Homo sapiens: one gene and its partner. The protein of the gene in region 1 purifies or fractionates together with the protein of each later gene. This does not show direct contact. Each region holds a gene or a part of one and is shown in the gene's direction. Other genes may lie near its edges. The genes, in order: IMPA1 and SCPEP1.

The links.
Region 2: the proteins of IMPA1 (region 1) and SCPEP1 fractionate together in Homo sapiens (co-fractionation; one large-scale study listed by BioGRID). This does not show direct contact.

What each region holds. Positions count from the first base shown.
Region 1 is NC_000008.11:81,676,070-81,679,894, reverse strand, and holds part of IMPA1 (inositol monophosphatase 1), read left to right. Parts: intron 1-664; coding exon 665-769; intron 770-3,615; coding exon 3,616-3,661; intron 3,662-3,825. UniProt on the Homo sapiens protein: Phosphatase involved in the dephosphorylation of myo-inositol monophosphates to generate myo-inositol. Is also able to dephosphorylate scyllo-inositol-phosphate, myo-inositol 1,4-diphosphate, scyllo-inositol-1,3-diphosphate and scyllo-inositol-1,4-diphosphate.
Region 2 is NC_000017.11:56,987,971-56,991,795, forward strand, and holds part of SCPEP1 (retinoid-inducible serine carboxypeptidase precursor), read left to right. Parts: intron 1-245; coding exon 246-320; intron 321-3,128; coding exon 3,129-3,201; intron 3,202-3,825. UniProt on the Homo sapiens protein: May be involved in vascular wall and kidney homeostasis.

The sequences.
Region 1 (3,825 bases):
AAAGTGTTAGGATTACAGACCTGAGCCACCACACCTGGCCCCTATTTTTAAAATCATTACATTTCCTTAATGATTTCTTATCTGCCGCAAATGTGTGTGTGCACACACCTTACCCTAGTATAACATCTTATAATTTGAATTTTGAAATTTTTCACATCGCTTTATTCATGGGGAAATAAATTAAAGCTTCCTTACATTTATCAGTCTTTACCTGAAGGAAGAAGAAGCAACAATAGAAAAGTGTAGGGTACAGACTTTTGCTATTTTTTTTTTTTTTTTCCTGAGACAGAGTCTCTCTCAGTTACCCAGGCTGGAGTGCAGTGGCACGATCTCGGCTCACTGCAACCTCCGCCTACCAGGCTAAAGCCATTCTCCTGCCTCAGCCTTCCAAGTTGCTGGGATTACAGGCGCCTGCCACCATGCCCGGCTAATTTTTGTATTTTTAATAGAGATGGGGTTTCACCACATTGGCCAGGCTGGTCTTGAACTCCTGACTCAGGTGATCCGCCCTCCCTGGCCTCCCAAAGTGCTGGGATTACAGGCGTGAACCTCCACACCTCGCCTGCTATGTTTTATAGTACTCTGTGTAGCTAAGGAAATGTTATGATTTGGAAATTGTTGAAATCAGTGTAAAGATTAAGAGTTTGTCCTACTTGGCTTTTAGTTTCATTGGTGAAGAATCTGTGGCAGCTGGGGAAAAAAGTATCTTAACCGACAACCCCACATGGATCATTGACCCTATTGATGGAACAACTAACTTTGTACATAGGTATGTTTTAAAATGTCTAATATAATTACTCTTTGCATATTAACTGGATTGACCTATAGATACTCTATTTAGGAACATGTACACTTTAGAAAATTGTATACTTCGTTTATGCTTCTTTATTCTAATAAAGTATATATAAAATGTAAAAGTGGAGCAAAATGTATTATGCAGACTTATCAGATATGGAGGAGGTAAAGAAATACTAATGTGATCTTGTCCTGTGGTGCCAAGTGCCCCGTTCACCATTCTTTTTCCCACTGTTGGCACTATCTAAAAAGGGAAGCAAACAACATTGCTGCTTTGAGAGTGGGAAGGGCACTTTGCACTGCATGCCATTTTCTATTCTTTGAGTGGCATGTACCATAGATCTATATGGATCTACTAATATGCATCTATTAGTAGTAACTATGTAAAAATATGGTTTTTTTTTTTTAAGATGGAGTTTCCCTCTTGTTGGCCAGGCTGAGATGCAATGGCGCAGTCTTGGCTCACTGCAACCCCCACCTCCCGGGTTCAAGCGATTCTTCTGCCTCAGCCTGCCAAGTAGGTGGGATTACAGGCACCTGCCACCACACCCGACTAATTTTTGTATTTTTAGTAGAGGCGGGGTTTCACCATGTTGGCCAGGCTGGTCTTGAACTCCTGACCTCAGGTGATCCTCCTGCCTCAGCCTCCCAAAGTGCTGGGATTACAGGCGTGAACCACTGCACCTGGCCAAAGATATGTTTTCAAAGAATAAAAATAAATTTAAAAAATTATAAACTGACTATGTTAAAAAGATTGTATTTTAGTAAAACTAATGAAGTCACTCTTGGGGAGTGCTGTCGATATAGAATGAGTTCAGTCCAGGAGAAAAAACACGGTTAAAAAGTGCAGAGGAGGCCCCTCTCCTCAGCCCTTAGGGTGACGGGGATGGGGATGGGGCTGGGGCTGGGGCCGGCAAAAAAAAAAAAATTGCATGGGTGTTAGGATGAATAGACGTGCATTCTGGTATTTTTTTACGGCTTTTTCACCTTAGGCAAGTTAGTTAACTTTTCTAGGCCACAATGTTAAAAAACATTTATAAAAAGGCCGTATTAATAGCACTTGCCTCGTAGAATTGTAACTCAACTCTATGAGTAGTACATTAATGTAAGAACTTAGTATAGTGCCGACACAGAGTAGGTATATGATATTACTAGAAGAAAGCCTGGTGGAATTGCCCATGAGAGTTAAAATCAGTAGCCGCTTCTGGTGGGATTACATATAGATGTCATATTTGAAGTTCCCATGTAGTTGTACACATCTGTACTATATATACAATCCTTGAAATCTACAAAGCTAAGGTTTAGAATCTATATGTGATAGAATGTTATATCTTTTAAATGTGGAAAGATGCTAATATATTTTCACAGAAGAGAAGACAGTACAATACAGTGTGTATAGTATCTTATTTTTGTTAAAATAAAAACTTTCTTACATATTTAAAAGTTTTTATTTTCAACAGCTTTAGCTTCAATAGTTGAATGTTGATCTTGTCTATTTCCTTGATCTTAATTCTCTTGTGAGTCAGCAGTTACAACCTGTGTTCAGACTGTCATGCAGCTATGGAAAAATTTTGGCTCAAAGTCTACTTTTCAGAGGCCAAGCCTAAAGTTTGCTGTTGGAGTAGAGACAAGTAACAGCCATTTATTTTGTCCAGTGCAGTATTTGTGTTTATCACGGTGTAGGACATAGGAAAAAAACATCACAGGCCAGGCGCGGTGGCTCATGCCTGTAATCCCAGCACTTTGGGAGGCCAAGGTGGGTGGATAACCTGAGGTCGGGAGTTCGAGACTAGCCTGACCAACATGGAGAAACCCCGTCTCTACGTAAAATACAAAATTAGCCGGGTATGGTGGCACATGCTTGTAATCCCAGCTACTTGGGAGGCTGAGGCAGGAGAATCACTTGAACCCGGGAAGTGGAGGTTGCAGTGGGCTGAGATCGTGCCATTGCACTCCAGCCTGGGCAACAAGAGCTTAACTTCGTCTCCAAAAAAAAAAAAAATCACTAAAATATATGCTTTTTAACCAAATCGATTTAAAAGTTTTTACAGTTTTCTTTTTTAACCAAATTGATTTAAAAGTTTTTACATTTTGGCTTTTTTTTTAAAGGGGGACAGCATCTCTGTCACCCAGGCTGGCATGCAGTGGCATGACTATGGCTCACTGCAGCCTTGACCTTCTGGGCTCAAGGGATCCTTCTGCCTCAGCCTACCGGGGAAGCTTGGACTATAGGCGTGCACCGCCACACTCAGATAATTTCGTGACTTTTTTTTTGTAGAAACAGGATCTTGCCATGTTGCCCAGCCAGGCTGGTCTCGAACTCCTGGGCCCAAGTGATCTTCCTGCTTTGGCCTGCTAAATTAGTGCTGGGAGGAGTGAGCCGCTGTGCGTGGCCATGAAAAAATATTTTTACATAGCTACTATATTCATAGAATTTGACCTTCAAAAGATAGAAAACGCAGTGCAAAATGCCCTTCACACTTCCATTTCTGGTTTCCCAGGATCCATCTCTGGAGATGACCACTGTTACAAGTTTCTCGTGAATCCTTTCAGAGATGTTTCATGCCTATAGAAGCATCCTGTGTGAACGTGTGCCTGTGTGTTGGGGGGAGGGTGTGTGTGTATAATACCTCCACTTTATCCTATTTACAAAGGGTTGTATACCATACAAACTGTTTTGCATCTTAGATTTTGTGGGGAGTGGAGATGAGACTTTTTATAGGAAAAATTTTAAGAACACTTATATTATGAAAAGATTAATTTTATTAACAAAAGTTCTATGTTGGTTAATTTGTATTTTGTCCTTTTTTTTAAAAAAAGATTTCCTTTTGTAGCTGTTTCAATTGGCTTTGCTGTAAATAAAAAGGTATGATTTTTTAAACGTATAGTTGATTATATGCCTTGCTCTCATTTTCTGAGAAAAAGTAAATGTGTTTTCATAATAAATTCAGGTTTGTCTGTATATTTGATTATATAACTGCATTATTTTGAATATAAGCTACAGGACTGTTAAAATTTTCATGATACATT
Region 2 (3,825 bases), on another chromosome or scaffold:
AATTCCCAAGATTGGGTTGTGGACTTTTGTTTCTGTCATCTCTAAAGTTGATATTTAACTTGAAAGAATGACCTTGGAGTGAGCATTCTAATCAGACGCAATAATCAGATATGGAGTGGTGGGGGAGGAAGACAAAGCAGATTTGTTTTTTCTGGTCATTACGTGCAATAGAAATTTGAAATTAATTTGTGTGACTCAAAAAGCAATCAAGGTAGTTAATTCTGTGTAATTCCTTTTCTTGCTAGACAGTTCCATTCTACATTTTCTCAGAGTCCTATGGAGGAAAAATGGCAGCTGGCATTGGTCTAGAGCTTTATAAGGTAATGGAAAATAACTTTGTTGTTATGGTTTTGGACAGAAAATCAATTATGTTACTTTTATGTACTCACGTGCTATTAAATATACTTTGAATAGGGCCATGTACATGCAGAGTACGATTAAATCTGTAGTAATAACCATAAAAAGTTTTTAAAAGAAGAATGAAGATTGCCCTGCTAGATCTGGAACAAGATATAAAGCATGAGTGAGTAAAAGAATGTGGTACTAACATAGCAATAGACAAATAGGTTAATTGCAACAGGATACAGAATCCAGAAACACACACACATATATATGTATGTGTATCATATATTTGTATTTTATATAAATATATATGATCATATATAAATATAAGATAACGTTTCAAATCATTGGGGCATGGATATAATGTCGATAAATGTTATGGAGACAAATACCTATCACTTTGGAAAATAGAAAACTTGTATTCCTGCCTTGTATAAAATATTAATTCTGGATGGATTAAAATCTAAACATAAAAATAAAAATAATGGAGACAAATACCTATCACTTTGGAAAATAGAAAACTTGTATTCTTGCCTTGTATAAAATATTAATTCTGGATGGATTAAAATCTAAACATAAAAATAAAAATTAGGACAGAATGCAGTGGCCCACGCCTATAATCCCAGCACTTTGGGAAGCCCAGGCAGGAGGACTGCTTGTGACCAGGAGTTCCAGACCAGCCTGGGCAACATAGCGACACCCTGTTTCTACAAAAAAAAAAAAAATAATAAGCTGGGCACAGTGGCTCCTGGCTGTAATCCCAGCTACCTGGGAGGATGAGGTGGGAGGATCGCTTGAGCTCAAGGAGTTGAAGCTGCAGTGAGCTGTGATCATGGCACTGCACTCCAGCCTGGGTGACAGAACAAGACTGTGTCTCAGGAAAAAAATGAAAACAAAAACCAAAACCAATGTCCTAGTAGAAAAATGTGGACAAGCAATTTGTAGAAGAAATATAAACAGCCTTTAGACATAAGAAAAATCTTCAGCTTTTATTAGTAAGCCAAGTCCATGAGATTTGTAAATATTTAAAAGACTGATAACACCCAGTTTTGGTAAGAAGTCAGGGAAATAAGTGCTGTCGTGCACTTTTGATGGGAATACAAATTAATTTAAATTTAAAAGGACAATTTGACAATGTCAATTTTTTAAAGATATGTGTCATTTCACCCAATAATTTTGTCCTATGGGAATACTTATACATATGTATATGTCAGAGAATGTTTATTATGCCATTGTTTATAATGTTTATAAACTGAAAACAGCTGGTTGGCTGTCAGTAGAGGATTGCTTAAATAAAGTAGGTATATCTTTCCAAGATGAAACCCTTTGCAGCCAGCATAAAGAATGGATCCAGGCGGGCGCGGTGGCTCATGCCTGTAATCCCAGCACTTTGGGAGGCCGAGGCCGGCAGATCGCTTGAGGTTAGGAGTTGGAGAGCAGCCTAGCCAACATGGTGAAACCCCATCTCTACTAAAAATACAAAAATTAGCTGGGCATGGTAGTGCACGCCTGTAATCCCAGCTACTAGGGAGGCTGAGGCAGGAGAACTGCTTGAACCCAGGGAGCAGAGGTTGCAGTGAGCTGAGATTGCGCCTCTAGTCTGGGTGACAGAGCGAGACTCTTTCTCAAAAAAAAAAAGAATGGATCTTAGCACTTTGGGAGGCTGAGGTAGGAGGATTGCTTGAGATCAGGAGTTAGAGACCAGCCTGGACAACATAGTGAGACCCCTGTCTCTACAAGAAAGAAAAAAGAAAGAATACAGAGAGCTATATATACTGAGTGTGGAAAGTTCTCCTTTGGGTATTTAGTTGTGGAACGATATGAGATAACTTTGTTTGTAAGTCAAAAACACTTCCATATGTGGAGATAGATTTGTATGCTGTGACGGCAAACAAAAGGGTTAGAAGGATACATGACACACTTAACTGCAGTCAGTTGGTGAGTGTGAGGGCACAAATGAGACAAAGTAAAAGACTTTCACATTTCCTTCTATCTCCTATGTTTGAATATCAGTGAGCTTAAATAAGGGTTTTTTTTAAGATTTATTAATTTAAAAAACTTATAGAAACAGCATATGTACATTATAGAATATTGGAAACTGTAACAAGCATAAATTAAAAATGAAAACTTCACCTTCCCACCTGATGGAGATCACTATAGTTAGCATCTGGGTATATAGCTTTCTAAATATTTTTGTGCACATTTATATAGAATTGTTTAGCTGAATGAGATCATATTATACATACTGGTTTCAGCCTGCTTTCTTCAATCAGTAGTTCTCAACTTTCTATTTCTGTAAATTTTCATCTCAAATATTCAGACTTTTTCTTTTTGAGACAGGATCTTGCTGTGTTGCCCAGACTAGAGGCTGGAGTACAGTAGCATGATCATGGCTCACTCCAGCCTCTGCCTCCTGGGCTCAAGTATCCTCCTGCCTCAGCCTCCCGAGTAACTGGGACTACAGACGAGCACTACCGTGCCTGGCTAATTTTTGTATTTTTTTGTAGAGATGGGGTTTTGCCATGCTGCCCAGGCTAGCCTCGACCTCCTGGGGTCAAGTGATCCTCTGACCTCAGCATCCTGGGTATCTGGGACTATAAGGCACATACCACCATGTCCCACTGATTTTTTAACTTTTTGTAGAGATGGGGGTCTCACTACATTGCCTAGGCTGGTCTTGTATTCCTAGGCTCAAGCGATCCTCCTGCCTAAGCTTCCCAAAGTGTTGGGATTACTGCGTGAGCCACTGCACCTGGCCTGAGGACGTTTCTTGTTTCCTCTTTCAGGCCATTCAGCGAGGGACCATCAAGTGCAACTTTGCGGGGGTTGCCTTGGGTGATTCCTGGATCTCCCCTGTTGGTAAGTGTGGCATTTTCAGGCATTTTTTCACTCCCCTTTTGCCCATCCTTTCCTGGGACTTTGGGCTGTGTTGTCCAGATCAAAGAGCTAAGCAGGAGAATGTTCTGGGCCCTTAGAGAAAGTGTTTGCTACATCCAAGAAATATAGAGACAGAGTGCCTACCATGGACCACTAAGGGCTGAACTGAGTTTTCTTAATTTAATTATCACAACAAAAGGATCAAATTTTACAATTGGAGGCATTCTGAAGACTCAGAGAGGTCAAGAAATGTGCTATCTGCCACGTAGGATGAGTGGCCTAGTCAGGATTCAAATCCAGGTCTGTGCTGCTCAGTACAAAGGCAAATCTGTTTTGTCATCCTGCCCCCTCTACTTCCCTGATGCTGACATAAGTGTTTGGGGTAAAATTCCCGTCTGTTACGCATATTGATGGCAAGACAAGGTTATCGTCTGGTCTTGCAACTCAGAAGTGTGCAGTTTTGTAATTGAGCATCCGTGTTGCGAGCATAAATAAGAGTTGTTTATGTTGCAGACACCCAGGGTGTGGCCCCAGACATCTGAAACAATCATCCTGGTGGCGTTCACTCTAACACAGGGTTTCTCAGCACTGTTGACATTGTGGGTC